Regions from separate parts of the Homo sapiens genome. Here region 1 is linked to region 2. The links come from fine-mapping of genetic effects on gene expression. A gene starts in region 2. The other region holds a variant in brackets. All regions are shown on one strand. Distances are from middle to middle. Region 1 holds the start of MRPL53 (mitochondrial ribosomal protein L53). Region 2 holds the start of LBX2-AS1 (LBX2 antisense RNA 1).

Region 1 (16,345 bases), 32 kb after region 2:
CACTCCAGCCTGGGCAATAAGAGCGAAACTTGGTCTCAAAAAAAAAAAAAGAGGCATTGTGAGTTTTCTTCCTGTTTGGACTATAAGATCCCAGTGGGTGGGGGAGAGACTGTCACACACTCTGCACCTTGTATTCCCTCAGTGTTGAGTACAGAGGCTCCTAACAAAAGTCCGTTGACAAAAGGGCAATTTCCTTGACATAAATAAGGGAGGAGAAGGGGGCTTGCATTTACTGGAGAAGAGAGGAAGATTTTGGATTTAGACAGGTTGTCAGATGTGCCAGGAGCCATATGGGCTCCACTCCATGTCTGGCCGCCCCCAGGTCTATCCTGTCTTCAGGCTCCCTGGCATCTACCATTTCTTTACAGAGCAGCTGCCATTAACCACATTTACTGGGGTTCCTCTCCCTCAAGATGGGCTGTAGAGCAGAAACCAGCTTTATTGCTGTGTTCTCTCCCTCCAAAAACAACCTATCAAACCAAAGAAACAAACCCAGCATATAGGCCTTTTCTTGCTTTATGGGTTATATTGCTCTGGAGTGGGCTGTGAAGAATAATAATATATAATAATGCCTTTCAATGTAAGGACATTCCAAAACTTCCTGAGTCTCAGAACATTCAAATAGTCATTGCTTCTGGTTTACATACAGTTCTTGTCTTCCTTTTGTAGGTGATAACCAAAAGATCATTGTAGGCTGGGTGTAGTGGCTTAGTGGCTCACATCTGTAATCCCAGCACTTTGGCAGGCAGAGGCAGGCCGATCACCTGAGATCAGGAGTTTGAGACCAGCCTGACCAACATGGCAAAACCTTGTCTTTACTAAAAATACAAAAATTAGCTGGGTGTGGTGGTGCACTCCTGTAGTCCCACCTACTTGGGAGCCTGAGGCAGGAGAATCACTTGAACCCGGGAGGCAGAGGTTGCAGTGAGCCGAGATCACGCCACTGCACTCCAGTCTGGGCGACACAGCAAGACTCTGCCTCAAAAATAAAAGGTCGTTGTAATTCCCCTTTCTTCCCTCAATTTCTGCCCATTGCAGATCATACAATCCCTCTTTCTGGCATATGCTCTGTGTGTGTGTGTGTGTGTGTGTGTGTGTGTGTGTGTGTGTGTGTGTGTGTGTGTGTGTTGCGGGGGTGGGGGCAGGGTATGTCTTTCTTTTTCCTTAAAGCTCTTGTATAGTAAAATTAACCTCAAGGATTTTCCATCTTTTGAACCAAGCTGGGGAGAGCAAGGTAATCCTAGGGCAATTGTTCATAATTTGGGTCCAGACCTCTTGGAAAACCCAATGACAACTATGGCATTGCTCCTCAAAAAATGGCCAGGCATACACAACTATGCAACAATTCTGGGGTTTTATGGATGTCAAGTTGGACATAGAGCTCCTTAGATATAGAGGATCATCATAATTTGACAAGCCCCTTTTACTTTCTCCCTATCCCTACAGCTCCTGCCTGAAGAGTCACTAAGTGTCTTTTCTCAAGAATGTCATAAACAAGCCATGCAAGGTTTCAAGCTCTACATGCCACGGGGTCGGTACTGGCGGCTTCGTCTCTGTCCTGGTAACTCCTCATCCCAGCTTCTCCTTCCAGAGTTCCAAGGGGGTAATAGTGTCTCAGCCCTTCCAAATTCCGGTTCCCCTCCACTGTCTCCATCCTTGTCCTCAGCTTCTGTACCCTTCCCTCCTGAAATCCTACCCTCTTCTCCCAAACACTCCATTTAGGGGTTCAATGGATCTCCACAGCCTTATATTCTGTCTTCTCTATTCCAGAACCTCCCAGTGCTCCTAGTGAGTATGCTGGTTTAGTGGTCCGCACCGTACTGGAGCCTGTGTTGCAAGGATTGCAAGGGTTGCCACCTCAAGCCCAGGCCCCTGCCCTTGGTCAGGCTCTGACGGCCATCGTGGGTGCCTGGCTTGACCACATTCTTACCCATGGGATTCGGTTCAGGTCAGGAGTAAAGGTGGAAGTGGCAGGGGGTGAATGGAACTGGGAAAAGGAAGGGGATAAGTGGGAGAGGCAGGAGGGTCAAGTGGCCATACTGTACCTCTGCCTTCAGCCTGCAGGGAGCGCTGCAGCTCAAACAAGACTTTGGAGTGGTCAGGGAGTTGCTGGAAGAGGAGCAGTGGAGCCTGTCCCCTGATCTCCGCCAGACCCTGCTCATGCTCAGCATCTTCCAGCAGCTGGATGGGGCCCTGCTGTGTCTGTTGCAGCAGCCCCTGCCCAAGTCTCAAGTCCACAGGAGGCCCCCCTGTTGCTGTGAGTTACTCCCCTTCGCTCACTGCTTTGTGTGTCCCAAACCCTATTCTCACCATTAATCTGGCTTCAGTATATCCCCAGCAGCCACCTACCTTCCACTCCTGCCTTACCAGGTGCTTGTCAGGAGGTCCAGACCACGAAATTGCCCAGCAGCTGCCTCAATAGCCTGGAGAGCTTGGAGCCCCCGCTCCAGCCTGGAACATCTCCAGCCCAGACAGGTCAGCTGCAAAGCACACTAGGAGGAAGGGGACCTAGCCCGGAGGGCTACCTGGTGGGAAATCAGCAGGCCTGGCTTGCCCTCAGGCAACACCAGCGACCCCGTTGGCACCTGCCGTTTTTTTCCTGCCTGGGAACCAGTCCTGAATCCTAAGGAGCCTGGGACCAGGAGCCAGAAAGTTAAGAGCTCCCCATCTCTAGCTGGAAAATCCAGACATTTGGAATTGCATATTAAGGAAGCCCAGAACTGGAAGCTTGGAGGAAAGCATACTGGAGAATAAGCTACAAAGAGCCTGGGCTTAAGAATCCAAGATTAGGGGCTGGGCGAGGTGGCTCACGCCTGTAATCCAGCACTTTGGGAGACCGAGGCAGGCGGATCATGAGGTCAGGAGATCAAGACCATCCTGGCTAACACGGTGAAACCCTGTTTCCACTAAAAATACAAAAAATTAGCCGGGCGTGGTGGCGGGTGCCTGTAGTCCCAGCTACTCGGGAGGCTGAGGCAGGAGAATGGTGTGAACCTGGGAGGCGGAGCTTGCAGTGAGCTGAGATCCAGCCACAGCACTCCAGCCTGGGTGACAGAGCAAGACTCTGTCTCAAAAAAAAAAAAAAAAAAAATCCAAGATTAGGCAGGGCATGGTGGCTCACACCTATAATCCCAGCACTTTGGGAGGCTGAGGCAGGCGGATCACCTGAGGTCGGGAGTTCCAGACCAGCCTGACCAACATGGAGAAACCCCGTCTCTACTAAAAATACAAAATTAGCCAGGTGTGGTGGCGCATGCCTGTAATCCCAGCTACTCAGGAGGCTGAGGCAGGAGAATCGCTTGAACCTAGGAGGCGAAGGTTGCGGAGAGCCGAGATTGTGCCATTGCACTCCAGCCTGGGCAACAAGGGCAAAACTTCGTCTCAAAAAAAAAAAAAAAAAAAAAAAAAATCCAAGATCACTCCAGCACCTGGAATCCAGAGTAAAGAGCAAGACCATAGCCTGGAACCTGAAGGTCAGACCCTTGGGAGGTTCAGGCCTAGTTCTCCATCACTGAAGATATCTCAGGGATAAAGAGTTGAGTGCTCGGCCAGGTGAGGGGGCTCACGCCTGCTCACGCCTGTAATCCCAGCACTTTGGGAGGCCTAGAGGGGCGGATCACGAGGTCCGATCAAGACCATCCTGGCTAACGCGGTGAAACCCCGCCTCTACTAAAAATACAAAAAATTAGCCGGGCGTGGTGGCACGCGCCTGTAGTCCCAGCTACTCAGGAGGCTGAGGCATGAGAATCGCTTGAACCCGGGAGGCAGAGATTGCAGTGAGCCGAGATCGCGCCACTGCACTCCTGCCTGGGCAACAAGAGCAAAACTTCGTCTCAAAAAAAGAAAACTGGCTAGAATGCACTTCAACTTAAGTCCTGGGAGCTACGCTAATTCATGGAGAACCACAGAGGTTTAATAGGCATTTCTATACCTGGATCAGCCCCAAGGACAGTATTACCCTGTACTGCCCTTCCTATTACTATTTTCAGTCATTTACTAATATTGGGCTGTAGTACTTTCACGTTTAAGCTTTGGCTATTCAGAGCTCACTACGTTTAATCTTCAGTTACCTGAATGGTGTTTACCTTCTGGTGTGGATCATCCCGGCTTGTGTTAGTGCTCTCTCTTTGGAAGAAGCCAGGATTTAAGATCGAGTTAGCCTAGATGTGGCCCAGCAGGGTACAGAAGGGGAAAGGCTGCAGAAAACGGGCGTATTTTCGTGCAAAGAGGTTTTTGCGCCATTTATTTATGGTTTTCACCGTCGTATGAGAGGACTATTCATGATAGGCTGTATTTGCTGACAGCCTACTTTGGGCTCCCCCATGCGTTGTGCCGAAACCACCTCTTTCTTTCCTGCCTTCCTCCGCCTGGGCTAGGAAGCCCAGAGCTGCGGTTCGCAGGCCTGCTAAGCAGCCGGCGGCCGGAAGTCTATCCCGCAGAAGCGCAGCCATTCACGGCCTCACGCAATGCGACACTTCCGCCTGCACGAGTTCTTCCGGGGCGGAGGTCACCATGGCAGCTGCCTTGGCTCGGCTTGGTCTGCGGCCTGTCAAACAGGTTCGGGTTCAGTTCTGTCCCTTCGAGAAAAACGTGGAATCGACGAGGTACGAAGGGGAAGTGGGTAGAAGCGGGAAGTGGTGCGCCTTCCTTCAGCCGGGGCTTTAAGCCCTCAGCTTGGCGCTCCTCTGTTTTTCCACCGTAGGACCTTCCTGCAGACGGTGAGCAGTGAGAAGGTCCGCTCCACTAATCTCAACTGCTCAGTGATTGCGGACGTGAGGCATGACGGCTCCGAGCCCTGCGTGGACGTGCTGTTCGGTGGGCTTGGTGGAGACGGGCAGGAGGGAACAGCGAGCAGCCCGCGCGCCCCTAAGCCCCAGCACTGCGGTCCCTCCCTGTCTCACTCGTTTGTTTCTTCCCCAGGAGACGGGCATCGCCTGATTATGCGCGGCGCTCATCTCACCGCTCTGGAAATGCTCACCGCCTTCGCCTCCCACATCCGGGCCAGGGACGCGGCGGGCAGCGGGGACAAGCCGGGCGCTGATACTGGTCGCTGACAGCGCCAAAGAGACCAACAAGATGATTTTAGCGTGGACTAGGACACTTAACCTAAGAAGAGTTTCACTTAATCATTCAAATCACTATCTGAAGGGTCACGGAGCGCAAAATAAAGTTTAAAACCCTGCTACCACAATGTTTCTGGAACAAGACTAGATCAGAGAGGTGTCTGGATGAACCTGAATTTATTTCACTTTCTTACTATCACTCACTGCTTAACCCTTTTGAATTTGGCTTCTGGCTTCTCCTACCACTCACTCAAGGTACCTCTTTTTTTTTTTTTTTTTTTTTTTTTTTTTTTTTGACTGGTCTGTTTCTGTCGCTCAGGCTGGAGTGCAGTGGCATGATTCTAGCTCACTGTAACCTGGGCTTAGCCGAACCTCCCAAGTAGCTGGGAAGTTGGGACTACAGGCACGCCCCACGCGCCACCACGTTTAGTTAATTTTTAAATTTTTTTGTAGAGAAGGGTTTTCACTATGTTTCCCAGGCTGGTCTTGAAGTTCTGGGCTCAAGTGATCCTCCCACCTTGGCTTCCCAAAGTGTTGGGCGTGAGCTACTGTGCCCAGCCCTCTTACTTTTACCAAATCTTGTGTGAAAGAACACTGATAGGCTGAGCGTGGTGGCTCACATCTGTAATCGCAGCACTTTAGGAGGCCGAGTCAGGCAGATCACCTGCTTGGAGAAACCCCACCTCTACTAGAAAATACAAAAAAATTAGCTGGGTGTGGTGGCACAAGCCTGTAATCCCAGCTACTCGGGAGGCCGAGCGAGGCAAGAGAATCGCTGGAATCCAGGAGGTGAAGGTTGAAGTAGGCTGAGGTCACACCACTGCACTCCAGCCTGAGCAAGAGTGAGACTCTGTCTCAAAAAAAAAAAAAAAACAAAAACACTAACAGAGTGCTGTTTTTTCAGCTCTCATCGTTGTATCCCAGTTCCATCTTTTTTTTTTTTTTTTTTTTTTTTTTAAATAGAGGTGGGGTTTTGTCCTGTTGCACGGGCTGGTCTCTAACTCTTGGACACAAGTGATCCTCCTGCCTCGGCCTCCCAAAGTGCTGGGTTCACAGGCGTGAGCCACCAACGCCTGGCCGCATCTACAACTCTTGTTTTTGAGATAGAGTCTCACTCTGTCACCCAGACTGGAGTGCAGTGGCGTGACCTTGGCTCACTGCAGCCTCCGCCTCCCGGGTTCCAGTGATTCTCCTGCTTCAGCCTCCTGGGTGGCTGGGATTACAGGCATGTGCCACCACGCCTGGCTGATTTTTGTATTTTCAGTAGAGATGGGGCTTTGCCATGTCAGCCAGGCTGTCCTCAAACTCCTGATCCGCCCCCTCGGCTTCCCAAAGTGCTGGGATTACAGGCATGAGCCACTGTGCCCGGCCTGCAACTCTTAATTCACCCATTTGTGGAACTTCTCTCCCTCTTGGGTCCTTTTTCTTTTGAACCACACAGGTGTTCTACCTTCATTCTTTTTCTTCTCTATTTTTTTCTGGGGCATCTCATCCTCTTTCACAACTTGAATTACACCTTCTGGGGTTAAACTATTTCTGTTTGGTTCTAATCCCAACTTCTATGCTATAATCAGGTTACCTGCTACCAATTTCCTCCAAATCCCACCAACTCTCTTTGTATAAAATAGAATTGATAATCTTACATACACATATACTTGCCTCTCTTCCCTGACTTACCCATTCCTTTTTAAAAACAGGCACTTCATCTACTCAGCCACCTGGGCTGGAAACCAGTGTTCTCTAGTTCTGTTCCTTTCCATTCTCTGCATATCTGGTCACTCAGTTCAGAATATTCTGTCTTTTAAAAAAGTGCCTGAAAGTTGGGCAAGGTGGCTCATACTTGTAGTCCCACCTACTCAGAAGGCTGAGACAGGAGGATCCTTTTGAGCCTAAGAGTTCAAGGCTAGAGTGAGCTGTGGTTGCACCACTACACTCTAGCCTGGTGACAGAGCAAGACACTGTCTCAAAAACAAAACAAAACTTCTGAAGTGATCTCTCCATTCCCATTCACTCTATTCATCATTATTGCATTCTGCTACCCAGTCTATTTCCTAAATATTTTTGCTGCCACTTAATTTTATCCTTCCAAAACATGCGATGGGTTTTATCTCTCACTACTCCCTGTTTAAGAAAACAGTGCC[G/A]GCCGGGCATGGTGCCTCATGCCTGTAATCCCAGCACTTTGGGATTTGGCCGAGGTGGGTGGATCATGAGGTCAGGAGTTCGAGACCAGCCCAACCAACATGGTGAAACCTCATCTCTTAAAAATACAAAAATTAGCCGGGCGTGGTGGCAGTTGCCTGTAATCCCAGCTACTCAGGAGGCTGAGGCAGGAGAACTGCTTGAACCCAAGAGGTGGAGGTTACAGTGAGCCGATACTGCACCACTGCACTCCAGCCTGGGTGACAGAGCAAGACTCCGTCTCAAAAAAAGAAAAAACATTGCCTAAACTGTTTTTCATACTTCCTCAACACTCATTAGTGTGGACCATGCAATCAATTTAGGGAGTTAAACCATTCTTTTTTTTTTTTTTTAGATAGGGTTTCGCTCTTGTTGCCCAGGCTGGAGTGCAATGGCACAATCTCAGCTCATTGCAACCTCCGCATCCCGGGTTCAAGCAATTCTCCTGCCTCAACCTCACAAGTAGCTGGGATAACAGGCATGCACCACCATGCCTAATTTTGTACTTTTAGTAGAGGGGGTTTCTCCATGTTGGTCAGGCTGGTCTCGAACTCCTGGCCTCAGGTGATCTACCCACCTCGGCCTCCCAAAGTGCTGGTATTACAGGCATGAGCCACCGCACCCAGCCTAAACCATTCTTAAAAAAATAATAATAATAAAATAAAATAAAAAAAGTAGGCCGGGTGGAGTGGCTCATGCCTGTAATCCCAGCACTTTGGGAGGCTTTGGCGGGCAGATCACTTGAGGTTGGGAGTTAGAGACCAGCCAGGCCAATATGATGAAACGCTGTCTCTACTAAAAATAAAAAAATAAAAAATAGCTGGGTGTGGTGGCAGGCACCTGTAATCTCAGCTACTCAGAAGGCTGAGACAGGAGAATCACTTGAACCCAGGAGGTGGAGGCTGCGCTGAGTGGAGATCATGCCACTGCACTCCAGCTCGGTTGATGGAGTGAGACTCTGTCTCAAAAAAAAAAAAAAAGTAGAATAGAATAAAAATTATCAGACTGAGGCTGAGTTTAATGGCTCATGCCTGTAATCCCATCACTTTGAGAGGCCGACGTGGGCGGAATCACCTGAGGTCAGGAGTTCAAGACCAACCTGACCAACATGGTGAAACCCCATCTCTACTAAAAATACAAAAAATTAGCCGGGTGTGGTGGCGGGCACCTGTAATCCCAGCCACTTGGGAGGCTGAGGCAGGAGAATTGCTTGAACCCGGGAAGTGGAGGTTGCAGTAAGCCGATAGCACCATTGCACTCTAACCTGGTTGACAAGAGCAAGGCTCCATCTCAAAAAAAAAAAAAAAAAAAATCAGACTGCATGGCACTTAGAATAGGAAGTTTAAAGAGATTAAGTCATGCTTTGTCACCCAGGCTGGAGTGCAGTGGCACAATCGTAGCTCACTGCACCCTCCATCTCCTGGGCTCAAGCAGTCCTCCCGCCTCAGCCTCCCAAGCAGCTGGAATTACAGGCGTGAGCCACCATGCCTGGCCTAATTTTTTTTTTTTTTTTTTGAGATGGAGTCTTGCTCTGTTGCCCAGGCTGGAGTGCAGTGGAGCACGATTTTAGCTCACTGCAATCTCTGTCTCCTGGGTTCAAGCGATTTCCAGCTAATTTTTGTATTTTCAGTAGAGACAGAGTTTCACCATGTTGGCCAGGCTGGTCAGGAACTCCTGACCTCAAGTAATCCACCCTCCTTGGCCTCCCGAAGTGCTAGGATTACAAGAGTAAGCCACCGTGCCCAGCCCTAATTTTTTTTTTTTTTTTTTTTTGAGACGGAGTCTTGCTCTGTCGCCGATGGTGCCATCTCAGCTCACTGCAACCTCTGCCTCCCGGGTTCAAGTGATTATCCTGCCTCAGCCTCCTAAGTAGCTGGGATTACAGGCGCGTGCCACCATGCCCAGCTAATTTTTGTGTTTTTAGTAGAGGCGGGGTTTCACCATGTTGGCCAGGCTGGTCTTGAACTCCTAACCTCAGGTGATCCACCGCCTCAGCCTTCCAAGGTGCTGGGATTACAGGCGTGAGCCACCACACCCGGCCAACCCTAATTTTTAAATTTTTTGTAGATGGGGGGGTCTCCTCATCTTGTCCAGGCTGGTCTAGAACTCCTGAACTCAAGTGATTCTCCTGCCTTGGCCTCCTAAAGTGCTGTGATTACAGACGTGAGCCACCACACCCAGCTAAAAGTATTCTTTTAGGTAACTTGTTTTAAATAAGTTGTGTGTGTATGTGTATCTGCACATACTGGGTTGCACTATGGAATTATTTCTTATTGTGAGTTGTAGGAAAATGGTTGAAAGCCACTGCTTTAGACACCTTCACAATGCTCAGCTAGGTAACAAAAGATCTGTAGACAGTGGCCTGCTGTGTACTTTGCCAGATACATTTCCCACGACCCTCCTACAGCAGCATTACTATACCTTTTCCCGGTCTAAAAGGGTGCTATCTTCAAAGGACCGTTTTTCCCCTCCCCCTTTAAAAAAGAAAGCTAGGAGGAGGCAGTATAGTGTTGTAATGAGCCAGACTGCTTGGGGTTGAGATCCTAGCTTTGTTTTTATGTAGCTGTATGACTTTAGACAAATTATTTAATCTATCAGTGCTTATTTCATTTGTAAAATGAAAATAATAGTACTTTTCTCATAGGACTGTTAAGGAGATTAAATGAATTAATATCTGTAAAGTACCTAAAACATTGCTGGGAGTGTAGTAACTGCTGTTATCTAAGAGGCCTTATTTATTCTTTTTTTTTTTTTTTTTTTTTTTTGAGACAAGAGTTTCGCTCTTGTTGCCCAGGCTGGAGTGCAATGGCACAATCTTGGCTCACTGCAATCTCTGCCTCCCGGGTTCAAGTGATTCTCCTGCCTCAGTGTCACGAGTAGCTGGGATTACAGGCATGCACCACCATGCCCAGATAATTTTGTATTTTTTAGTAGAGACGGGGTTTCTCCATGTCGGTCAGGCTGGTCTCGAACTCCCAGCCTCAGGTGATCCGCCCGCCTTTGCCTCCCAAAGTGCTGGGACTACAGGCTTGAGCCACTGCGCCTGCCCTAAGAGGCCTTATTCTAAAGTCAAAAGAACAACCTGGATTTGAGTTCCCCAGCTCCATAATTAACTGGCTGTTATTTTGGGTCAGTCTTAACTACTCTCCTCATCTGTAAAAATGGGGGTGGTCTGGCCAGGCGCGGTGGCTCACGCCTGTAATCCCAGCACTTTGGGAGGCCGAGGTGGGTGGATCACCTGAGGTCAGGAGTTCGAGACCAGCCTGGCAAACCTGGTGAAACTCCATCTCTACTAAAAATACAAAAATTAGCTGGGCGTGGTGGTGGGCACCTGTAATCCCAGCTACTCGTGAGGCTGAGGCAGGAGAATCACTTGAACCCTGGAGGCAGAGGTTGCAGTGAGCCGAGATCATGCCATTGCACTCCAGCCTGGTGACAGAGCGAGACTCCGTCTCAAAAAAAAAAAAAAAAAAAAAATGGGTATGGTTCAACATGCATTGAGTGCTGGCATTGTGCTTCTAGACTGTGAACTTGAGGTTGGGGCCATTTTCTCTGAGTCCCCAGCACCTTGCATAATGCGATATAGGGTGTACAATAAACATGTGTTGAATTTATAAATATTTAGCATCTGCCTTATGCCTATAATTGATTAGTACTGTGATACAAAGATGAAAAATGAAACAGGTATGTAATAAGTGCTACAATAAGGATGTCGACAAATGCAACGGTAGCAAGAAAGACAAAAACAGGACTAACCATTGGGTTTGGTCAGATGATTTCATAAGCAAAAAGTCTACCACTAGTGGAGAGTGGGGCCACCAGTCAGATTATAGTGAAATATAAGTGGTCGTGTTGCATAAAGCATCAGTCTCTCTCTCTCTCTCTCTCTCTCCCTCCGTCCCTCCCTCCCTCCCTCCATCTCTCTCTCTCTCTCTCTTTCTTTTTTTTTGAAACAGTTTCACTCTTGTTGCCCAAGCTGGAGTGCAATGGCGCAATATCGGCTCACTGCAACCTCCGCCTCCCAGGTTCAAGCAATTCTCCTGCCTCAGCCTCCCGAATAGCTGGGATTACAGGCACCCACCACCACACCCGGCTAATTTTTGTATTTTTAGTAGAGATGGGGTTTCACCAAGTTGACCAGGCTGGTCTCCAACTCCTCATGTCTGGTGATCCACCTGCCTCGGCCTCCCAAAGTGCTGGGATTACAGATGTGCGCCTCGGTGCCTGGCCACATCAGTCTTTTTTTTTTTTTTTTGAGACGAAGTCTCGCTCTGTCGCCCAGGCTGGAGTGCAGTGGCACAATCTCGGCTCACTGCAACCTCCGCCTCCCGGGTTCAAACGATTCTCATGCCTCAGCCCAACGTTAGATTGGTTTTTCCGAGCCTGTGAACTCCATGGGGTCGCCAGATAAACGCAATCCCGGTGGACCAACGCCCAGGACAGACGCTACGTACCAACCCTGTGTCAAGCCGCAGGCAGCGGTTCCGGACTCTGGGACTTAACCTAACGTGGCGGGGCGGGACTTCCGGCGGGAGGCGGAGGCGGAGGCGCAGGCGCTGGCTGGCAGGTGTCGCTAACCGGACGGTGGTCGCCAGGGCGAGAGGCGGGAGCCGGAGAGGTGAGGCAGGACCCGGGCTCCACTGCCGCCTCTCCGAGCTCTTGTGACGCGGACCTCAGTGCCAGGATGGCTCGGGGCGAGCGGCGGCGCCGCGCAGTGCCGGCAGAGGGAGTGCGGACAGCCGAGAGGGCGGCTCGGGGAGGCCCCGGGCGACGGGACGGCCGGGGCGGCGGGCCGCGTAGCACGGCTGGAGGAGTGGCTCTGGCCGTCGTGGTCCTGTCTTTGGCCCTGGGTATGTCGGGGCGCTGGGTGCTGGCGTGGTACCGTGCGCGGCGGGCGGTCACGCTGCACTCCGCGCCTCCTGTGTTGCCTGCCGACTCCTCCAGCCCCGCCGTGGCCCCGGACCTCTTCTGGGGAACCTACCGCCCTCACGTCTACTTCGGCATGAAGACCCGCAGCCCGAAGCCCCTCCTCACCGGTAACCGGGCCCCAGGGCGGGCAGGCAGGCGGACTCCTAATCTGGGCGCCCCAGCTTGAAGCGAGAGCAAGGGTGGGAAGGAATGGATCAGGAGAGTTATGAAGAGGGATGACCCGGAGACCCGGAGGGACAGGTCCCCTGCTCTTTGACTTACGTGGCCATTCTACCCCCAGGACTGATGTGGGCGCAGCAGGGCACCACCCCGGGGACTCCTAAGCTCAGGCACACGTGTGAGCAGGGGGACGGTGTGGGTCCCTATGGCTGGGAGTTCCACGACGGCCTCTCCTTCGGGCGCCAACACATCCAGGATGGGGCCTTAAGGCTCACCACTGAGTTCGTCAAGAGGCCTGGGGGTCAGCACGGAGGGGACTGGAGCTGGAGAGTGACTGTAGAGCCTCAGGTCAGGGCCTCAGGACACCCTTTTCTCAGCCCAGACCCCCTCCATCCTTCCCTTGCTGCCAGCAAATGCAGCATGAAGTGGGCTCTGGCTGCCTGGCTTAAATCCTGCCTTAAACAACTGCCTGTATAACCATTTCTATTTACCATCTCTAAGCCTTGATTTCCTTGCTTGTAAAATGTACAATGTAGATAATAATAGCACTTAACTCACAGGACTGTAAGAATTAAATGAAAAAGAGGCTGGGCGCGGTGGCTCACGCCTGTAATCCCAGTACTTTGGGAGGCCGAGGCTGGCGGATCACCTGAGGTCAGGAGTTCCAGACCAGCCTGACCAAAATGGAGAAACACCGTCTCTACTGAAAATATAAAATTAGCCGGGCGTGGTGGCGCATGCCTGTGATCCAAGCTACTTGGGAGGCTGAGGCAGGAGAATTGCTTGAACCAGGGAGGTGGAGGTTGCGCTGAGCCGAGATCGTGCCATTGCACTCCAGCCTGGGCAACAAGAGCAAAACTCCATCTCAAGAAAAAAAAAAAAGCCAGGCGCGGTGGCTCACGCCTGTAATCCCAGCACTTTGGGAGGCTGAGGCGGGCGGATCATGAGGTCAGGAGATGGAGACCATCCTGGCTAACACGGTGAAACCCGGTCTCTACTAAAAATACAAAAAATTAGCTGGGCGTGGTGGCGGGCGCCTATTGTCGCAGCTACTCGGGAGGCTGAGGCAGGAGAATGGCGTGAACCTGGGAGGCGGAGCTTGCAGTGAGCTGAGATCGCGCCACTGCACTCCAGCCTGGGCGACAGAGCGAGACTCCGCCTCAAAAAAAAAAAAAAAAAAAAAGAATTAAATGAAATCAACTGTGTAGAGTTCTTAGTGTAGGACATAGTACAAAAGTATACTGTTATCTCCCAGGGCACCCAGTGCAAGGCTCTTTATCTCATCCCGCTTGGGTGTACCTGGTTACCCTCAGTGACCCTCATTACTGCCAGACGTATGTTGTTTACATTACCCCTGCCTACTGTTCCTTTCCCTCACTAAGGCTGATTCTCAAGAGGGAATTCAAGAGAGAATGCCAATCTAACACTGTTCTTTTCTGTCCTCGTTGGTCACTCAGGACTCAGGTACTTCTGCCCTCCCTTTGGTCTCCCTGTTCTTCTATGTGGTGACAGATGGCAAGGAAGTCCTACTACCAGAGGTTGGGGCCAAGGGGCAGTTGAAGTTTATCAGTGGGCACACCAGTGAACTTGGTGACTTCCGCTTTACACTTTTGCCACCAACCAGTCCAGGGGATACAGCCCCCAAGTATGGCAGGTAACTGGGGGAAAAGAATGTTGGGGGATGGAAGGGGTGGTTATTCCCATTTTCACCAGTCTCCATGTCCCCTGCCTGAGACCTCCCAACCTGACTCCTGAACACTTTGTATTTCTCTTTATAATGCCCACTGCCTTCTCTTGAATAATATTTCCTATTTATCTTCTCCCCTTCAAGCTACAATGTCTTCTGGACCTCCAACCCAGGACTGCCCCTGCTGACAGAGATGGTAAAGAGTCGCCTAAATAGCTGGTTTCAGCATCGGCCCCCAGGGGCCCCCCCTGAACGCTACCTCGGCTTGCCAGGATCCCTGAAGTGGGAGGACAGAGGTCCAAGTGGGCAAGGGCAGGGGCAGTTCTTGATACAGCAGGTGACCCTGAAAATTCCCATTTCCATAGAGTTTGTGTTTGAATCAGGCAGTGCCCAGGCAGGAGGAAATCAAGCCCTGCCAAGACTGGCAGGCAGTCTACTGACCCAGGCCCTGGAGAGCCATGCTGAAGGCTTTAGAGAGCGCTTTGAGAAGACCTTCCAGCTGAAGGAGAAGGGCCTGAGCTCTGGCGAGCAGGTTTTGGGTCAGGCTGCCCTCAGCGGCCTCCTTGGTGGAATTGGCTACTTCTACGGACAAGGGCTGGTATTGCCAGACATCGGGGTGGAAGGGTCTGAGCAGAAGGTGGACCCAGCCCTCTTTCCACCCGTACCTCTTTTTACAGCAGTGCCCTCCCGGTCATTCTTCCCACGAGGCTTCCTTTGGGATGAAGGCTTTCACCAGCTGGTGGTTCAGCGGTGGGATCCCTCCCTCACCCGGGAAGCCCTTGGCCACTGGCTGGGGCTGCTAAATGCTGATGGCTGGATTGGGAGGGAGCAGATACTGGGGGATGAGGCCCGAGCCCGGGTGCCTCCAGAATTCCTAGTACAACGAGCAGTCCACGCCAACCCCCCAACCCTACTTTTGCCTGTAGCCCATATGCTAGAGGTTGGTGACCCTGACGACTTGGCTTTCCTCCGAAAGGCCTTGCCCCGCCTGCATGCCTGGTTTTCCTGGCTCCATCAGAGCCAGGCAGGCCCACTGCCACTATCTTACCGCTGGCGGGGACGGGACCCTGCCTTACCAACCTTACTGAACCCCAAGACCCTACCCTCTGGGCTGGATGACTACCCCCGGGCTTCACACCCTTCAGTAACCGAGCGGCACCTGGACCTGCGATGTTGGGTGGCACTGGGTGCCCGTGTGCTGACGCGGCTGGCAGAGCATCTGGGTGAGGCTGAGGTAGCTGCTGAGCTGGGCCCACTGGCTGCCTCACTGGAGGCAGCAGAGAGCCTGGATGAGCTGCACTGGGCCCCAGAGCTAGGAGTCTTTGCAGACTTTGGGAACCACACAAAAGCAGTACAGCTGAAGCCCAGGCCCCCTCAGGGGCTCGTTCGGGTGGTGGGTCGGCCCCAACCTCAACTGCAGTATGTAGATGCTCTTGGCTATGTCAGTCTTTTTCCCTTGCTGCTGCGACTGCTGGACCCCACCTCATCCCGCCTTGGGCCCCTGCTGGACATTCTAGCCGACAGCCGCCATCTCTGGAGCCCCTTTGGTTTACGCTCCCTTGCAGCCTCCAGCTCCTTTTATGGCCAGCGCAATTCAGAGCATGATCCCCCCTACTGGCGGGGTGCTGTGTGGCTCAATGTCAACTACCTGGCTTTGGGAGCACTCCACCACTATGGGCATCTGGAGGGTCCTCACCAGGCTCGGGCTGCCAAACTCCACGGTGAGCTCCGTGCCAACGTGGTAGGCAATGTATGGCGCCAGTACCAGGCTACAGGCTTTCTTTGGGAGCAGTACAGTGACCGCGATGGGCGAGGCATGGGCTGCCGCCCTTTCCACGGCTGGACCAGCCTTGTCTTACTGGCCATGGCTGAAGACTACTGAAGGGAGGGAGAGGAGGGGAGCCAAGACACTCATGCCACTCTGGCTCTGAAGGGACAAAGGCTTCTGGCTTTTGCCCCCAGCCCCTTGGATACCAGTAATTCAAACCTTCCTCATTTCATCTCAGGTGTCTCCTTGCTGTCATCCCACATAGCCCTGGGGTGAATGTGAATCCAGAGTCTATTTTTCTAAATAAATTGGAAAAAACATTTTGAACTCTATTGCTTTTGCCAGATTTGCCTCACCAAGAGGCCTTAGGTCAGTCCAGGCCTCAGCACTGTCTGCTGTCCTCAGGGAAGGTGGGGTCAAGTGGCCATAACCTGTCCCCTTCAAACCCAGTCAGGTCAAGTGCAATGCAGTGAGTTGAGCTTTAGTCCACCCAAATCCACAAGTAGCTGGTTCACATCTCTTTAATGAGATCAAAGGCTCCTGTGTATGTCCTGCGGGGGT
Region 2 (10,659 bases):
AGAGGAGTATGGAATGTGTGCCACCAGCCACCTCACTACCCTATCTTTCTCAGAGCCAGCACTGAGCAACCTCGGCCTCCCCTTCAGCAGCTTTGACCACTCTAAAGCCCACTACTATCGCTATGATGAGCAGTTGAACCTGTGCCTGGAGCGGCTGAGGTGAGGAGAAGGTCAGGGGTTGCAGGAGGTGACAGTGCCAATGACCCAGAGCCAGGGAGGGTCTAGGGGAGAGGCTGAGCAGTGAGTGAGTGCCTATCCCCTTGAAGAGAGTATATCATGGCTCTGGGTGGGGAAGAGGAGGAAAGATAGGATTCCCTAACCTGTGTCTATTTCCCCCCAGTTCTGGCAAAGACAAGAATAAAAGCGTCCTGCAGGTGAGAAGGGCTGAGGGGAGGGCCTCTCTAAGGAGACTCACCTCCCATGGTCCTTCCCTCACACACCTTGCCCTCTTCCCTCCCCTCCCTGCTCCCAGAACAAGTATGTCCGATGTTCTGTTAGAGCTGAGGTACGCCATCTCCGGAGGGTCCTGTGTCACCGCTTGATGCTAAACCCTCAGCATGTGAGTAGTCCCACAGTAGGTTTCTTGAGGGGGAGAAGGGGCTAAGAAAGGAGGGACAGAGTCTAGGGTGGACCAGGGTAGTTTTTGACCTGCCAGAAAGTTCCTAAAATTATGCCCCCATCTCCCTCCTAGGTGCAGCTCCTTTTTGACAATGAAGTTCTCCCTGATCACATGACAATGAAGCAGATATGGCTCTCCCGCTGGTTCGGCAAGGTAAGCCAGGCCACCCTCCCTGGGATCACACCCCCTTCAGACTCCCCCCAACCATCCTACAGTCCTCAGGGGAAGGGTGGGCTGAGGGGCCCTTTGAATAATATAAGAACATTCCCCACTGACTACTACTTCCTCATTCTCTCCTTAGCCATCCCCTTTGCTTTTACAATACAGTGTGAAAGAGAAGAGGAGGTAGGGGCCAAGCCCCCACCCCATCCCACTCCCCTTCCCTCCCCAGATATTTATGTGAAATGAACTGCAGCTTTATTTTTTGAAATAAAAACTTTTAAAAAGCACCTCTCTTCTGCCTTATTCTTCCTGCCTCACACTCATGCTGTGTCCTGCCTTCTTCAAAAATCCTCTGAGTTTCATTGTGAAGAAGGGCCTGTCCTCTATGGCCATGGGCCCTCAATGTCTTGCCAAAGGAGAAGGGTAGAGGATCCCTATATGTGTGAAACCAGGCCTCCCACACCACTCTTTTTGGTGATGGGAAGGTTTCCTGGAGGGGAGCTCTCAGCTGTCTTTGTATGCTGCAGCATACAGTGCGGGTGCGGGCCTCTTAGGAGGTTTCCTAATTCAGCGGTGGTGAGAAGGCTAGAGTTGGACAGTGGCTGCTGCAGGATTGAACAAGTGTGATTTTTTAAAGAAAAATCCAAAGAATTGCATTATAGTTTTATAACTTGGGGGATGGGGACAAAAAGGAGGGAGAAGTCTAAAAAACAAATGGAGTGGGGCCACAGGAATTGTCAGAAATGGAGGCTTAGGCTGTCCATACAGGATTCAGCAAGTACTTGGGGACTGCGACTAGAAGAAGCCAGGGTGGGGAATAAGTAGCTGAGGAGGAGAGGGAGCTGATGTGGAGGAGAGCAAGGGCAACTTCAAGGAACAAAAGGGAAGCTGCAAGGCACCAGCTCCATTAATTCAGCAAACATTCCTTGTCTGTATGCCATGCCAGGGTCCTTGTTCTATGGTTCTCTCAGTGGGGTAGCTAGAAACTTGCCCAACAGACAGGAACAGACAGAAGCCAAAGCAAAGAATTCCTGAAGGTAGCCGGCCTGCTGCCAAACCTGGGACAAACTGTATGGAGGCGCAGCGTGTGTAGCCAGAACCCGAGTTAAAACCTAGGTCCCACCCTGGCCGGTCTGACTCCACGGCTTCTAGGGGTTGGTTGTGCGAAGCTGTTGAGGGCTGAAGGCGCTAACCATCAAAGATGGAGGTCGGGTGGCAGAAGATGGGGTGGGAGGCAGAGAGTGAGTACAGCGAAGGCGGCCTCAACTGGATAAGAAAACTCCAGACTTGCGGGAAAGGCCTGAGCTCGCATTGGACGCTCTGGGGTGCCACAGTCGGACACTGTTTCCGGGAGACCTCCGCCTCTCCGCGCGGATGAAGAGGCTGCAGACGCCGAAGAAGAGCTCGAGTGCGTGGGGCACTGATGGGGATCGGGGTGGGCACACAGCAGACGGCCTGGGTACGCTTCTTTCCTGACATGGTCTCCAAGGTTAGCAAAGCTTCCAAACGTTTCCAGGCCTCCAGCCTGGAATGCCTCTCCCCCCGCTCCCCGACCTCTTCCAGGAACACCCCAGCTCAGGGCTCCCCACTCCCCTTCCTGCGAATTGAAGCTCTGTGGGCTTTGCGGTCCGGGCGGGCGAGTACCTGGCGGCCGGGGCTGTTCTCCAGGAGTTTCTGCGCGAAAAGTTTCCTAGGAGTGACGGGATGGCGTGGGCTCAGGGGAGAGTAGAAACGCTCCCGGGGGCTTTGCAGGGACCGAGCAGCTGCGGGAGCTGGGGAGCAGTCTGACTGGGACTCCCTGGAAGGCCCTGCCATTGGGGCTGGGCGGCAGCTCGGCGTCGAAAAAGCCGGGTCTGAAGATTAATGTGCCGAGGCCGGAGACCCTGAGGACCAAGTCACGGGACTTGCCCTTGGTGACTCACGCCTTGAGGCCGAGCAGCGCGGAAGGCGCTCAGGCCGGATCTGGGGTGGGGCCCAGCCGAGCCTTGGTCTTGTCTGTCAGCAGCGGCAGCTGCACTGCGTCTCCCAAGGTGGCTGAAGCTGGCCAGCTGCGGGCTCCGCGCCGCTCGTCCCGGGTCTATGGGTCCATTCCCCACGCCCACCCGGACCCCGGGGTCACTCGGGTCTCCGTCTGTGCCAGGGAGGGAGAATCACGCCCAGGGTCCTCTCTGGCTTCGCGCGACTGAGAACGCGCCCGGACGCGGCGCGGCGCTCCTGAGTCAAAGGAGAGGTGGCGGCAGGACCACCCCAGGGCGCCGTCTGCACCCCCGGACGCACTCGGCCGTGCTGCGCTTCCGGGACAAGGCGTCGGTTCTCGCCTGAGGGCCAAACCTTGCCCCTGCCCACCTTCCTCACCCCCGCCATTTCCAGGACTCACATCCAAAGGCGACAGCACCAGGATTTGCTCCCGCCTTTGGCACAGAGGAGGACGGGTCCCTCTCTCAGCCTGGCCAGTCTTTCCCAGGGCTTGATGGGAAAAAGGACTTCCCTAGAAGTGAGTCTTGGGGAGTTGGGGGGAGAAAAGTGTCGAGGAGGGCGTCGGAGTTTCCCACCGCTGGCTGCTTCCCGGCCCGCACGCCCGGGAGGGTGGCGGTGGGCGCGCAGAGATCTTTGCAAAACAGCGTCCAGGGCGGAAAACAACTCACAGGCCTGCCGCCCCCAAAGTCACGAAACTAAGATATAAGGACCGGTTCACTCCGCAGTAGCGCTTTCTGAAAGAGAAAACAATCCCAGAAGTGTGCGGGACGGACGGAAGCCCCGCCTCACGCTCCTCCGCCTGGACTTTGCTCCCTGAACTCCCACTGCCCTCTCACTCCGGTTCACGGACGTTTCCTAAGGGTGGGGAGGAGGGGAGCAAGCTCTTCGCTGAGATTGTCCTTGTCCACCTCCCCAAGGGGGTTATTCCGAGGGTCCTCCAACCCTGCTACACATTCACAGAATTCAGTGGAATGTCCGGGCCGGCAATCCGAGACTAAAGGTCGTTTATTGAGCAGGCCTCCGTGCCACCAGTGGGGAACGGGGTCGAGCGGGGGCGGCCCGGGGTGGAGGAACCCGCCGATGGGGTGTGTGGGTGCAAGATAAGGTGGGGGTAGGGCTGAGGGGTGAGAATGGGAAATCTGAAAGGGGAGGTGTGAGGAAGCATCCTTAAGCGGGAATGGGGTGCCTTCCCAAGACAGCGAATTTGGAATGTGGGGATCTCTACAAGGGGAGGGAGCGCAGGGCCCCGAAATGTCTGAATGGACAATCAAAGGAATCTGAGAAGGTGGGAAACACAAGAGACTGCCTGAAAAGGAAAACCGTTGGCCCCGCGGGGCCAGCGGTGAAGGCTGGCCTCCGTGCATCTCTTGAGAAGGATCGTGAACAGGGAGGGTTCTACCCGCGGGTGGGAAGAGGCGAGCACCCAGGAGCTTCTGTGCTTCCAAGCTGGGGTGGGGGGTAACCTATAGGACAGCCGAGTGAGTGTCCCCTCCCCAACCCAGAACAAGTTTTAATCTCTTAATCTTCCTCATTAATCACTCACCCTCCTACCCCTCTCTGTGGATCCGATTTCGCCCCAGCTCGAGTTCCAGTACTGAGAAAAGTCCCCTTCTGTGGCCCCACGATCCCCTGGACTAGTCCCTGGCCGCTTTGACGACCTTAGAGGGGCCTCTGCTGTCCTGGGCCTCCTCCCTTTGCTACTCTCCACTTCCATCTCCTCCCCCAAACTCATGTTTAGGAGCTGTCCAATCCCAGTACCTGAGCCCAGCTGCAGAGGGGAGAACTAGGCGGGAGAGATGGAAGGGGCTGTGAGGCACAGGCCCATCAGCAGAGCTCCACACTCCTCACAGACACACGTAAGTAATTGAGAGCAGAGGTAGAGACAGACACAAAAGCCACATAGAGGATGCATGAGTGAAGGTTGCAGCATCTGCTTGGTGATATGCCTGGGATGCAGTGGGGCAGTTCCTGCTGCCTCCAGAGAGCTGCTTTATTGCACATTAAGTGAAACCACTAGGATGGTTTCCAGGGCTGAGGCCTGTAGCCCGAAGATCTCTCCAGGCCCTCCCCTGCCCCTCACCATTAATAACCATTTAACAACGTCCTGAGGCAGCTCAGCTTTCCACCATGGCCTGGCTCTGCTCTTTGATCCAGCAGTGGCCCATCAGCCTTTAAGTGTGTTGCTCAGCTTTCCAGGAGGGCATTATGTGAATGTTGCGGGTGGGGGAGGGGGGTTGTTGGAGTGAGCCCTTTACCAAGAAGACCCTATCAAGGTGCCTTCCCATCTTTGTCAAGGAGTCTTTGGCCCAGGTGCCTTGGATCTCCTAAGCCCTGTTTAGGGAACCCCAATTGCATGCAGCAGTTGCCCCAGGGAATAGACAGGTGGACACTGCACAGATGGTGGGAGATGCAGGGGTCTACAAGGAAAGTGACATAATGGACAGTCCAGGAGGGACTGGCCTGGTTTTTCCTGACACTGTTTTAAAAAGCTAGAAGCACATCAGTTTCTGACTTCCCTGGGCAGCAAAGCAGCAAGCTCCTCAGGAGTGGCAGGGCTTCCCTGCTCTAAGGTGTGAATCCTCCAGCTGTTTGGGGTGGAATGTAGGAACAAAACCCATACCCTGCTGGGCCTCAACTGCTGAGGCCCCACTGTCCCTGAGCTGCCTTCTTCCTACAAAGGAGGGCTGTGGGTGCTTACCCAGGTATGAGCCCAGAACCAGAATAAGTGTGGCAGATAAAAAGGGCCCAGATTAAATAGGAATGAGTATACCAGGCCTCACAGTTAGTACCTGGGTTGTCAGGAATGTCCCAAGATCCAGCTGGGTCCGTGAAGTCTGCCCTTCAAGTCTCTCTTCTATGGGGAGTGACCCCTCTCTGGTCAGGGCACCTTGCTCCCCTTGGCAGTTTCTGAGCCTCTGCAGGCTGGGGAAACCATACATACCTGAACTATGGGAGCTTAATAAAAAGAAGATAAAGACAGACAAAATCGACTGATTTTGCCAGTCCTCACTGACAAAGACCCCTCCTGGGCAGTTGCACCAGCTGGGAGTTCCCTGGGTCTTCTCTCCTGCGGCCCGGGTCTCCCGGCAGCTTCTCTGTGTGTTCTGATTTCGTCAGGTGGGGCAGCCTCGGGTCCATTCACCTGTGCTTGCTTCTTCGTGGCATCCCCACTATTCCCAGTTGCAGTCGCTCCGCCAGGCCAGGTCCTCCCAAGTGTTGCGCCCCCGACCCATGCAGCACTAATCACTTCCAGCCGTCAGGACCAGAAACAACGTTTCTCAGGGGTGGGGTGGGGAAGAGGGAGCCAGGTTAGGAGACTGAGGTCCTAGCTGGGATCAGAGATCCCAGCACAGTCAGCCCTGATAGCCTTCCTCAGAACTTTGCAAATCCCCAGCCGCTGGGGCCAGAGAAGGCAATTTTATCGTCTACTAGTTTATGAGCCGGAGCGGCGGCTAGGCGGGGAGTCGGCGGCATACAGCGTCTGGAGGTATGGCCCGGCCTGACTGTGCACGGTGCAGCGCCCCGCAGCGCGGAGCAGCCCCGTGGCCCTGCTCTGGTGGGTAGTTTGGTCGGCTTCTGCTCTCCGCGCCTGCCCCAGCCTGTAGAAATACCCTCCCCGGACATCTAGGAGCTCCAGATCCACCGCGGCCCGGGGTGGAGAGGTGGGGGCGCAGGAGGAGGGGCACACGGGACTCGGGCCCAGAGCCGGGGGCGGGTCCGAGGCTGGGGGCCCGGATTGGGAGCCGAGCACTGGGGCCCAGGCGTTTGCGGAGCCTAGCGCAACGGACAGCCGGACCGCCCCAGCCCGGCCGACCATGAACTCGGGACGCGAGCCCCGAACACCCCGGACACTCTTAAGCATCGCAGACATCCTAGCCCCGCGCATGGTCCCCCGAGCACCCTCTGCGCCGCAGCTTCCAGAGTCGGGTCCGGGTCCAACGTCGCCGCTGTGCGCGCTGGAGGAGCTGACTAGTAAAACTTTCCGCGGACTTGACGCGCGCGCTCTGCAGCCCTCTGAAGGTATAGAGCCGGCAAGGTCGCGGACTCTGACTTAGCCTTTTCCTCACCTCTCTCCTCCTGGTTCCCCGTCTCAAACCTTTGTCCCAGCCCAGGCCACCCACCCTAATCCTCCCCTGTCCTCAGCCCACGTGCCAGGACTCGCACCTGCGACTTCTCACCTCTCCTCCGTTAGTCCCTAGGTTCCGCGGCGGCTCCGGAAGGCCGCCAGTGCCAAGGGAAAAGGGCAGACCGTCGCCAACTGAGCGACCTGTTGCTCTGTTCCTTGTAGGCGGGGCAATCGCGATAGAGAAAGGCAGGAGAGAAAGAGACAAAAGGCTTCAGCCGCAGGCGGTAAACGAGTGAGCCTGCAAAGGCGGCACAGAAAGCGCTGGAGAGTCGAGTCTTTCCGGGTGACCAAGCTCCGCTCCAAGCCACTCTCTTCTCGAGGGGAGTCAAGGAGCAGAAAGCCCTTGGCGCAGCACTGGGCGCGGGATTCCGCACTCTGCCTTTTCTCGCTCTCTGTACCTCATTATCTCCCTTTGGGGCCGGAGGAGCGGGCTCTGGTGTCACTAAGGAACTGTAAACCGAATGCCCGACCCGATCCATGGAAGGGCATGATCTAAGTCCTGTTACCACCACCACGCTGGGTCGGCTGCCCTGACTCTTACTCGCCTCTGATGTCACCCTCAACTTATAGCCTGCTCAGCCTGAGGCTCCTAAAAGCCTCAAAGGCTCCACCCCAGAAGGTTTGACCCTGCACCTCTGAATCATCCCTCCCTTCCTTCACTTCCTTGCCCCTACAATATGCCCTCAGCCTGCTGCCTTTCGCACCCCTGTGGCCAGCCCGCTTTGCGCCCCATATCCCCACCTGGGCCTGACTCCCGATAAGGGATCACAGTTCTGGTCTCCGTCCGCCTTCCTGGCTCTCCCTCTACTTCCCCCACCGCCACCGGCCCGACCCCACCCCCAACTTTTCTTTCCAGGCCCAGCCTGATTCCCGGAGGCTGGAAACTGACCCCCTCCCTATCCCTACAGGGCGGGCAGGTCCGGACGCGCTGGGCCCTGGTCCCTTCGGCCGCAAACGGCGCAAGTCACGCACTGCGTTCACCGCGCAACAGGTGCTGGAGCTGGAGCGGCGCTTCGTCTTCCAGAAGTACCTGGCGCCGTCCGAGCGAGACGGGCTAGCTACGCGACTCGGCCTGGCCAACGCGCAGGTGGTCACTTGGTTCCAGAACCGGCGAGCCAAGCTCAAGCGCGATGTGGAGGAGATGCGCGCCGACGTCGCCTCGCTACGCGCGTTGTCCCCGGAAGTCCTGTGCAGCTTAGCACTGCCCGAAGGCGCTCCAGATCCCGGCCTCTGCCTCGGCCCTGCCGGCCCTGACTCCCGGCCCCACCTGTCAGACGAGGAGATACAGGTGGACGATTGAAGACAAAGCCGCCGCCAATCCTGGGCTCTGGGGCCCTGGACTCCTCACCTCGCGCTCTGCCTCTGGCCAGAGTTCCAGGGTGGAGGAAGGAGGTCCACTTGGGCCTCTTCCGGCCCACAGTCCAGACGCTCACCTTTCCCGGTTTTTTTGTAAGTTTGTTTTGTTGTCTGAGACAGGGCCTCGCTCTGTCGCCCAGGCTGGAGTGCCGTGGAGCGATCACCGCTCACTGCAGTCGCGACCTCCTGGGCTCAAGCGATCCTCCTGCCTCAACCTCCCGACTAGCTGGCATTACAGGCGTGCAGCACCACCCCAGGCTAATTTAAAAAACTTTTTTTTTTAGAGAGGAGGTCCCGCTATGTTGTCCAGGCTACTTTCCCAATATTTGAGAATAAAGTCGAGACTCTGCCGCACCATGCCTCTATCCAGACGCCCGCCAGAAGCAAGAAACAGTAAAATCTGTAAAGTGCTATGGGGAGTCCGCACTTGGCACTGTGCCAGGGCTTTCAATGCAATGTTTCCTTTAGCCCTTATAGCAACCCTTTAAGGTAGGTAATAATTACACCATTTTTACAAAGTCAGAACCCTGAGGTCAGGTTTTGGACCCAGCATCCAGCCAGCCTTCAGAGCTGATGCTTATCAGTCTACCAAGGGGAAGTCACCGGGCCTGAGTGAAAGACAGTGGGGCCTTGGCCCACCTACTGTCTGCCTGGGAGACCTTGATTCTAATCCCTAGGTTGGCCCCAGAGTGATGACATTGTTTCCCCACCTGTTAATGGGTTCCTGACCCTTTCCCCATCCTGCCAAAAGAACCCTCCGCTGGGACACAGGCAAATAGACGGGTGCCCAGAGAGGCCACACCCCTACCTGGAAGACCTCTGCCAGGCCCCTGGGCCAGAAATTTTACCACTAGGATGGTGGCAGCAGCCAGAGGGTGGAAAGGCTTGGCCTGCTGGGGCGAAGCTTGGAGTAGTGGCCTTGCCTGGTAGGGATTCCAGCCTAACTCAGCCAGTGGACATTTCTGACATTCATTTATTCCACTGGTGATAATCACCCTCCTGCAGTGTGAGGGGAGAGGAGGGGGAACGCTCAGTAGTTGCAGGCCTTCCCCTCCCCAGTGGTCCCAGCCAATCTTCAGATCAAGCTCAGTTGTCTTTCCTGCTTCCCTTCTCTCCTGTCAGTCCTCTGGCTCTCTTCAGACTTTCTCCTGCCTCTGCCTAAGTGTGACAACCCTACTTTCAAGGAAGTTCCATGGGTTCAACGGGGGTCAGCTAGGGCCTTAGTTGCAGGTGGAGGGCCCAAGAGAGAATATTCCTTGGAAAGTGAACAAGGCTGGAAGGCAGAAGGGAATCTGGCATTTTCAGACAGTACCACTTATTAAGCAGTTCCAAGTGCTTTGCAGGTATTAATCCTTAAAATAACCCAACAGGACAGAGACTTTTCTTTCCATTTTAAGGATGAGACTGAATTACAGAACCCTGAGGAAACTTGGCCAGGTCACAGTTTGTAAGTGGTGGCACAGGGACTGAGCTGTTTGCTTGTCCGACTCAGGAGCCCATGCTCTTGGTCTCTATAAAGGTGACTGAGCCTAAAGGAAAGAAGCAAAGGATTTACAGAGAAAGGGGAGGAGAAAGGGCCACAGGTAGGGACTTAGGCATTGTACTTTAGAGCATGGTCCCTGGAGGTTTTAGAGAAGAGAGACAAGAGACCATTGTTTAGGGTAGGCCAATCTGGCTGTGGGCGCAGGTTGGATCAGAGACTGGTAGAGACCTGAAAAAGGGAGTATATATCTGGCCACTGCAAAAGGTAACAGCAGAGAGAACTCAGGGCCAGACTTGAGGTGGGGCTGGGAGGTGGTCACAGAAGAGGAATCTGCGATTGCCCCAGGGATCAAGGATTGCATGAGTCAATGACAACCTAGCAAATGTGGGCAACTGGAAGAAAAATGGCAACATGGAAACAGACAGTGACCACTGGTGTGGAGCTAAGAATCTGTCAGCCATTATGCATATGCAAAAAAATAATTCTTTGCAACTGCATTGCCCCTTCAGTACTCCCTTCTAAATACTGCCTCTCTGGAACATTTCCAGTAGGGTGATCAACTCTTTCCCATCTGCCCAGCATTTTCCAAGTTTTGGCATTGAAAGTCCCTCACTCCAGAACATCCCTCAGTTCCAGGAAAACCAGGATGGTTGGTCACTCTACTTTCCAGTCCTGGGAACTCAGAACTCAGGCTGTTGGGTCAGACCCCTATTAATTAGGAGGGTGAAAATGGGGCAAAGTGTCAGGAGTCACGTGACTCTTGGAGAAGCTACAAGTCCAGGGCAGGCTAAGGTACTGGGGAGGGAACATTTACTTGAGAAGCTAGAACAAGGAGCCAGCTCAGCTGGAAGGCAAAAATACCATTGAGTAGTGGTGGGTGGCCTTTGAGAGGTCAGGAGCCCTACAGACATCCCAAAAGCATGCAGGTCCCTGCTC

The links.
Region 1: its variant is fine-mapped to the expression of LBX2-AS1 in whole blood (TOPMed, PIP above 0.99).

The regions. Positions count from the first base shown.
Region 1 is chr2:74,460,828-74,477,172 of GRCh38, reverse strand. It overlaps MRPL53 (mitochondrial ribosomal protein L53), which reads left to right and starts at 4,493. Exons shown (of 3, transcript NM_053050.5): 1 at 4,493-4,604; 2 at 4,703-4,815; 3 at 4,921-5,191. The coding sequence starts at 4,513. The coding sequence ends at 5,054. It overlaps CCDC142 (coiled-coil domain containing 142), which reads left to right. Exons shown (of 9, transcript NM_001365575.2): 6 at 1,447-1,561; 7 at 1,771-1,948; 8 at 2,058-2,257; 9 at 2,371-4,341. The coding sequence ends at 2,627. It overlaps WBP1 (WW domain binding protein 1), which reads right to left. Exons shown (of 4, transcript NM_012477.4): 4 at 16,292-16,345. MOGS (mannosyl-oligosaccharide glucosidase) reads left to right here and starts at 11,791. Exons shown (of 4, transcript NM_006302.3): 1 at 11,791-12,277; 2 at 12,451-12,677; 3 at 13,787-13,983; 4 at 14,161-16,116. The coding sequence starts at 11,926. The coding sequence ends at 15,898. It also overlaps INO80B-WBP1. RefSeq lists enhancers at 4,455-4,554, 4,955-5,084 and silencers at 9,517-9,811, 12,005-12,224. The variant G/A (reference allele first, on the strand shown) is at 7,205.
Region 2 is chr2:74,495,452-74,506,110 of GRCh38, reverse strand. It overlaps LBX2-AS1 (LBX2 antisense RNA 1), which reads right to left and starts at 3,518. Exons shown (of 2, transcript NR_152616.1): 1 at 3,159-3,518; 2 at 1,046-2,471. LBX2 (ladybird homeobox 2) reads left to right here and starts at 6,508. Exons shown (of 2, transcript NM_001282430.2): 1 at 6,508-6,778; 2 at 7,793-8,594. The coding sequence starts at 6,574. The coding sequence ends at 8,184. PCGF1 (polycomb group ring finger 1) reads left to right here. Exons shown (of 9, transcript NM_032673.3): 5 at 54-159; 6 at 341-374; 7 at 473-559; 8 at 692-772; 9 at 921-1,068. The coding sequence ends at 968. RefSeq lists enhancers at 2,619-2,688, 2,595-2,889, 2,360-2,985, 2,986-3,610, 8,162-8,211.